Homo sapiens: one gene and its partner. The protein of the gene in region 1 purifies or fractionates together with the protein of each later gene. This does not show direct contact. Each region holds a gene or a part of one and is shown on either strand. Other genes may lie near its edges.

Evidence for each region. The genes of interacting proteins can lie anywhere in the genome.
Region 2: the proteins of SLC22A4 (region 1) and SPPL3 purify together in Homo sapiens (affinity purification with mass spectrometry; 2 studies listed by BioGRID and IntAct, with this or other methods). This does not show direct contact.

Annotation. Positions count from the first base shown.
Region 1 is NC_000005.10:132,339,188-132,343,132, forward strand, and holds part of SLC22A4 (solute carrier family 22 member 4), read left to right. Parts: intron 1-1,377; coding exon 1,378-1,513; intron 1,514-3,945.
Region 2 is NC_000012.12:120,902,902-120,906,501, reverse strand, and holds the start of SPPL3 (signal peptide peptidase-like 3), read left to right. Parts: upstream 1-2,143; 5' UTR 2,144-2,634; coding exon 2,635-2,657; intron 2,658-3,600.

The DNA.
Region 1 (3,945 bases):
AACTCTTTGCAATGGAAGAAATTAGCCCCTTGTATATATGTTGTAAATATTTTTCCTAGTTTACCATTTGTATTTTCACTTTATGATATCTTTGTAATGAAGACAATTTTAGTTTTTATATACTCAAAGGTGTCAATCTGAAATGAAACTACAGAGGTGTTTCAGCGGCATGTTCAATCTGATGTAGGATCTGACACCCCATGCCTGGTCCTCATTAAGGACTCTACTGGTGAGAAATGCAGACACACCTCATCAATTGGGCAATTGGTTACCTACTGGTACACACGTACACACACACACACACACACACACACACCTGAAAACATGTATGAATTCTCAGGAAAGGTATAATCCAAACCCTTACAGAGAAAGAGAAACATTTTCCTAACAAACATATTCTGCACAGTTGCCCTGTGCCACACCTGAGATAGCAGATTATACAGAGTGGTGTTATTTTTCCCTTTGTCCTTCCCTGTACTTTCAAACTATTTCAAACTATGCTCAGATGGTCCAGTGGTCAGACACTGGTACATAAGACAGGGAGTCCAAGAGTCTCCTACTCCACACAGCTACTCCTGTTAGTGACACAGAGGCCTCAGAGAAGCTGCAATAACAATATTTTCCTTATGTTTTGGGTCAAATGAAATCCATGGGTGTGCTGTTCCTCTGTAAGCTCTGTATGTATACAGGGGCAAAGCAAGATGAGGATCTGTTTTTCTCCTGTGTGAGTAAAGCTTCACAAAGAGATTACATATTAACCCAAGACATGTAAGTGCTCCAAAAAGAAGCCAAATCCAGGCACACAGTGCCTTTACAGAATGTGCCTGATACTTATAATTTACTGATTTAATCTGAAGTGAACATAATACTTAGTTGTTTTTTTTTTTTTTTTTTTTTTTTTTGAGTCTCATAGCCCTGTGGACCTAACTTTCCACTGCAGCCTACTAGTTTGGGCAAAAGCAGAGTCATGCCAGACCTATCATAGCCAAAACCTATCCCTGAAACATCCTGGTTAACCTCCTTCTCCTTGATGTCCTCCCATCCCCCATTTCCAATTACCTCCACCTTAAGAGGAGAACTCTGGTAGGCAAAGAACTCTACCAAAGGAACATCTGTCACACATGACTGAGTAGTAGCTTAGAGGATACCAGTTGACAGGAAAGAATGAAAAGCCTTATGATAATGCAAAAGGATTATAGACATGCACAATGTCATCTGCCAAAAAGAAACTGATATTTTGCTTACTTTTTTTTCTCTGAAAATGTTCAGATTTAAATCCATTCTCTTATACTGTTCACCAACTTCACAAAATGATGCTCAAGAGTGCCCAGAGAGTCCTCCTATCTGATTGATGTTCTTATGTCCCGGGCTTTACAGGTGCTTACAACAGAATGCTGCCCTACATCGTCATGGGTAGTCTGACTGTCCTGATTGGAATCCTCACCCTTTTTTTCCCTGAAAGTTTGGGAATGACTCTTCCAGAAACCTTAGAGCAGATGCAGAAAGTGAAATGGTAAGTAGGACTTTTAACAAAATGATACCAAAATGCCTTAGGGAGAATAAGCATGGAAGAATAGCTAGGAAGGTTCTGAAATAGAAGAGTAATAAGTAGAGACTAGCTCTATCAGATAATAAAGCATATTGTTGGCTGGGCACAGTGGCTCACGCCTGTAATCCCAGCACTTTGGGAGGCTGAGGCAGGTGGATCACCTGAGGTCAGGAATTTGAGACCAGCCTGGCCAACATAGTGAAACCTCATCTTTACTAAAAATACAAAAAATTAGCTGGGTGTGGTGGCAGTCACATGTAATCCCAGCTACTCAGGAGGCTGAGGCAGGAGAACTGCTTGACCCAGGAGGCAGAGGTTGCAGTGAGCTGAGATCACACCACTGCACTCCAGCCTGGGCAACAAGAGCAAAACTCCGTCTCAAAAAAAATAAATAAATAATAGGCCAGGCGCGGTGGCACATGCCTGTAATCCCAACACTTTGGGAGGCTGAGGCAGGCGGATCATGAGGTCAAGAGATCGAGACCATCCTGGCCAACATGGTGAAACCCTGTCTCTACTAAAAATACAAAAATTAGCTGGGCATGGTGGCACACACCTGTAGTCCCAGCTACTCAGGAGGCTGAGGTAGGAGAATTGCTTGAACCCGGGAGGTGGAGGTTGCAGTGAGCCAACATCATGCCACCGCACTCCAGACTGGGCAACAGAGCTAGACTCTGTCTCAAAAATAATAATAATAGTAATAAAGCATATTGTTGAGCAATAGTAATTAAAACAATGTGATAATGGTATAGGAATAGAAACCAATGGAATAGGATAGAGTTCAGGATAAAACCCAAGAAAATATAAAAATTCAGTATGTAATAAAAAGTAGCAAAGTCAAGGGGGAATAGTTATTCAGTAAAAGGTATTAGAACATTCAGCTAGACATTTTGAATAAATTAAAAAGTTGTCTCTTTAAAAAATGCATTGGCTGGGCATGGTGGCTCACACCTGTAATCCCAGCACTTAGGGAGATTGAGGCAGGCAGATTGCTTGAGGTCAGGAGTTCGAGAACAGTCTGTCCAACATGGTGAAACCCCATCTCTACTAAAAATACAAAAATTAGCCAGGCATGGTGGCGCACCCCTGTAATCCCAGCTCGCGGGAGGCTGAGGCAGGAGAATCGCTTGAACCAGGGTGGTGGATGTTGCAGTGAGCCGAAATCGCGCCACTACACTCCAGTCTGCGTGACAGAGCGAGACTCCGTCTCCAAAAAAAAAACACATCAAGATAAAATCCAGACAGTTAAAAAATTTAGGCCTAAAAATGTAAAATCATAAATATACCAGGAGGAAACAAACATTTTTATAACCTTAGAGAAGATCTTACTGAGCATAACATAAAATCAAAGAACCATAAAGGAACAGATTGATATATCTGATTGTACATTTTTTAAATTATTGGCAAGGCAAAAAGAAACCACCCACAAAGACAAAAGTCAATAAGCCAGGAGAAAATATTTGCTACACAAAACCTAAACATAAGGCTAATATACTTAATATACAAAAAGCTCATAGTAACCAGTGAGAAAAAGACAAACAATTCAGTAGGAAAACCAGCAAAGGACAAGAACAGACAGTTTACAGAAGAAGTCACTTCAGTGTCCAATATATACATGAAAAAAGTTATTTGTCCACATTAATAAGGAAATGCAAAAATAAAACAATTCAACATCTTTTTTTGGCTTATGAGATTGCGCAAGGGTTTTTCTTCTTGACGCAAACCAATTCTGACACCTATTGAGTGTCCTATAATGCAGTTCAATTTTGACAATACCTAAATTTAGCATCAGACTCCACAGGTGTAAAGACTCAGTCCCACAATACTGCCTTGCTTCACTTGCCACTCACAAATGTCAGGTCCCCAGGTTACCCACATTTCTCTCTGACTTTGCTACCAAGTCTGGGGTTCCAACAAATCCCCTCCTTGGGTTTGATTATTTGCTAGAATGACTCACAGCACTCAGAACACTGGCCACTAGCGGTTTCTTACAAAGGATACAAATGAACAGCCAGATGAAGAGGTACATACAGAGAGGTCTGGAAGGGTCCTGAGTGCAGAGGTTCTGTCCCTACGGAGTTAAGGTGCACTGCCCTCCTGGCATGTGGATGTGGTCACCAACTCGGAAGTTCTCCAAACCCCATCATTTAGAGGTTTTCATGGAGGTTTAGTCATGTTGGCATGATGGATTATTAAGTCTATCCCCAGCCTCTCTCCTCTCCCCAGAGGTTCCAGGCTTCTAATCCAGGCTTAGTCTTCTGGTGACCAGCCCCCACCCTGAAGCTATCTAAGGGCCCAGCCAAGGGTTGCCTCATTAGAACAAAAGAAGCTTTTATCACTCCCTATCACTCCAGAAATTATAAGAGATTTAGGATCTCTATGTTAGGAGCCAGGGA
Region 2 (3,600 bases), on another chromosome or scaffold:
GAATGTTTGTATTTTTAGTAGAGATGGGGTTTCACCATGTTGGCCAGGATAGTCACGACCTCTTGACCTCATGATCCACCTGCCTTGGCCTCCCAAAGTGCTGGGATTACAGGCGTGAGCCATCGCGCCCGGCCTGGACCTCAATCTCATCAGTGAGCCTTTTCCCAGGGCTCTCTGATAGAGCTTTGGAGGAAACACTTGGAACCTAACTGGTCCTGGCACCTGGCAGTGGGGGAATAAGGAAGGAGAGCTTTGCTTCTGAAGGGAAAGTGTACTTGGCTTTCTCTTTAAAGGGTTTCCCTTGGGGAACAGGCAAGCGGCAGATGTATGGGCAATGGCCAACTGATCCATTTGGAGATAGATTCAGGGTGTGGTGTTCCCTGTAAGCCTGGGCAGGCCCTGGGAAACTGGAGCAGAGCTAAATTCTGGCCTAAAGTTGGGCAAGCTGCAGAGAAGCTTGAGTACGTTGGTTTCAGGTGTGTGAGTTTTGCCTTCTGCAGAGAAACAGGGGGGTGAAGGGTGGGGGTGGAGGGGTGTCCAGGAGGGTTAGTGTATCTGTTGCCCAGGCATGTTTCTAAATTCTGAAGCTGCACTGGTTAATCATTTTTATTCATGAACACAGTAACTGGCAAGGAGGCTTAGCTGGGCCCTCAAAGTCTGGCCTCAGTGCACCTTCTCAGTATATTTTCTCAACACTCCAGCACAAATCACCCATCCCACTCTCGGATTCAAGCTCACCAGGAATTGGGCCTTACTTCATGCCATTCTTTCTTTCTAGAATGCCTTTTCTTTTTTTTTTTTCTTTTTCTTTTTCTTTTTCTTTTTTTTTTTTTGAGACAGAGTCTCGCTGTTGCCCAGGCTGGAGTGCAGTGGCGCAATCTCGGCTCACTGCAAGCTCTGCCTCCGGGGTTCACGCCATTCTCCTGCCTCAACCTCCTGAGTAGCTGGGATTACAGGCGTCCACCACCACGCCCGGCTAATTTTTTGTATTTTTAGTAGAGACAGGGTTTCACCGTGTTAACCAGGATGGTCCCGATCTCCTGACCTCATGATCCACCCACCTCGGCCTCCCAAAGTGCTGGGACTACAGGCGTGAGCCACCGCGCCCGGCCAAAAGAATGACTTTTCTTTGATAAGCCTCTCACCCTTTCAGACGGCCTCATCCACTCCTGGGGAAGCATTCCGCAGTACCTGGGGCCTCAATTAATCTCTCTCTTCTCTCTCCATCTAAGCTCCAGATTCACTTTGTTGGTCTCTGGTCTAGCTCTACCGTGTTTATTTCTGTGCCGGTTTCCAGACCTCCAAATGGACGGTTTCCTGAGCCTTCTGCCCTTGCTGTTCCCTCTGCCAGGAACTCTTTTCCTGTGGATCTTTGCAAGGCCAGCTCTCTGTCATCATTCAATATCAGCTCAAATGTCACCTCCTAAGCGAGGCCTTCCTTGACCACCCTATCTAAAGTAACCCACACCTCTGCTCACTCTCTGTCCCCTCACCTTGTGTTACAAAATGTGTTTTTGTAAAACTTAGCAGCATCTGAAATTATCTTATTTGTGGGCTTGGACTATGTCTCTTCCTTTAGAATGTAAGCTCTAGGAAGGCAGAGTGAGTTGACACATGGTTGGCACCCAACAAATATCTGTTGATTGATTCTGTGAAGGCAAGCGTGGGGTATTCGACTTGGTGCCGGGCCTGGGCGCAATAAAGGTTGGCTGCCTGGAATATTTGCTACCTGAATGAATGAACCAAGGAACATACGAACGAAGGAATGCAGCCCTCTGCCTGTTGACTGACAGGTTGACTGACAGTTGGGGGGCCCGTGGCCAGCAGACTGTTGACTGACGGTTGACAGCTGAGTGGCAGCCAACAGACGCGCATCGGGGTTCCCGATTGGCTGGTGCAGCAGCCCCTCGGAGAGGGGCGGAAGAGGGTACCCGAGGCGACATCTCCGCGTGGGGAGGGGGGCGGCACCAGGCAGCGGGAGGCGGCCCAACTGCTCTGGCTGTGCGAGCAGCAGCCGCCTAGAACCCAGGAGCCGACGTCTCTGCGCATGGGCCCGGCTCGAGGGGCGGGGCGCGCATCACGTGAGCGTGTTTTGGGCACGTGACCCGCGCGGGGCCAAGGCTCGCCCCCGCCCCCGCCCCTCCTCCCCTCGGCGGGTGTGATCGAGTGGCCTCGCCTCATCGCCTAGCGCCCCCCTCAGTCGCCGCCGCCTCCGCCCGCCGGCCATGTCCCCCGGCCGCCGCCGCCGCCGCCCGAGCGCGGCGCTCCCGCGGCCCCGCGCGCAGTGAGCGCGGGCCCGTCTTGCCGTTCGCCCGCCCCAGGGCCCCCTTGTTCTCCGCGCCGCCGCCGCCGCCATGTTGGGTTTGGAGCTGCAGCGGAGCCGCCGCCGCCGCCGCGGGTGAGGGAGGCCGAGAGCGGAGCCCGCCCCGCCCCGGGGCCCAGGGAGCGGGGCCGCTTCGGAGCCCGGCCTCTCCCCGCCAGCCGCCTTCCCGGCCCGCCGTGCAGCCAGCGAGCCAGCGAGCGAGCAAGCAAGCAAGCACCGGACCCCGGCCGCGCCTTCAGCTACGGCCCGAGCGAGCCCGCCGCCGCCGGGCCCGGCCACAGCCTGCAGCGGAGCCCACGAGAGGCAGCGCCATGGCGGAGCAGACCTACTCGTGGTGAGTGCGGGGCTCCGGGAGGCCGGGAGGCGGCAAGGGTGGGGGTCGGGGCGCCGGCGCGGCCCGCCGAGGGGAAGAGGAGGAAGAACAGGTGCGTGTCGTGGGGGGGGGGCGCGGGTTGGGGTGCACGCCCCCCTCTTCCCCACCGGAGGGGGCGGCTGGCGCGCACGGAGGGCGGTGAGTGGCCGGGGACCTGGCGTCCGAGAAGGGGAATGGAGGAGGAGGCAGCGGCGGATGTCATCTGGCTATGGGCGGAGCAGGTGATGGAGAAGGGGAGCATGACCCCGGGGGTGGGAATCCCACGGATGGGAAGTTGAATCCGACAGGCACCCCGGAACTGACTCGTGGGGGTGTTTCCTGGGCAGGAGGACTCGAAGGGGTGGAGAGAGGCAGGCCAGGGCAAAGGTGGGCCGCTGGGCTGAGAGGAAGCTCTAGTGAGAACAGGTGATAGAGGCAGAACTTCTAAGTTGGGAGAGTGGAGCGGCCGCCGCTTGGCTCTGGGACAGGGAGCGCAGGGAGAGTTGGTGAGGTGGGCAGAGGCCCGGGAGTGAGGGGAGGAAAACTGCGGGGGTAGAGTCCACGAACCTTGGAGGGGAGTCACTGGTGAAGAGGTTGGAAGAGGAGCCTGAAGAACCTGTTTCCTTTTCCTTCTGGAAAAGGAATTCGTTGGTGACAGTGGGGCATGGGCAGAGTCTTTGTAAGGGTTGGTACTATTATTTTCAGAGGAATGGCGCCCAGGGCCAAGTGTGGAGGTGGAGGACCTGCAAGTTAAGTTCATTTCTGTGGGGCTTTTAAAGTTAGTAAGTAGCTCGTTAAGGGCCGAGAAGCGAGAAGCTACTGTGTAGTTTATGGGGTGACAACCTACATATCCGGAGAAGGGAGTGCCAGGGTTTGGGGGAAGGAACATGAGGGGTCTCCCTTTAGCATGTAGAGGTGGGATATT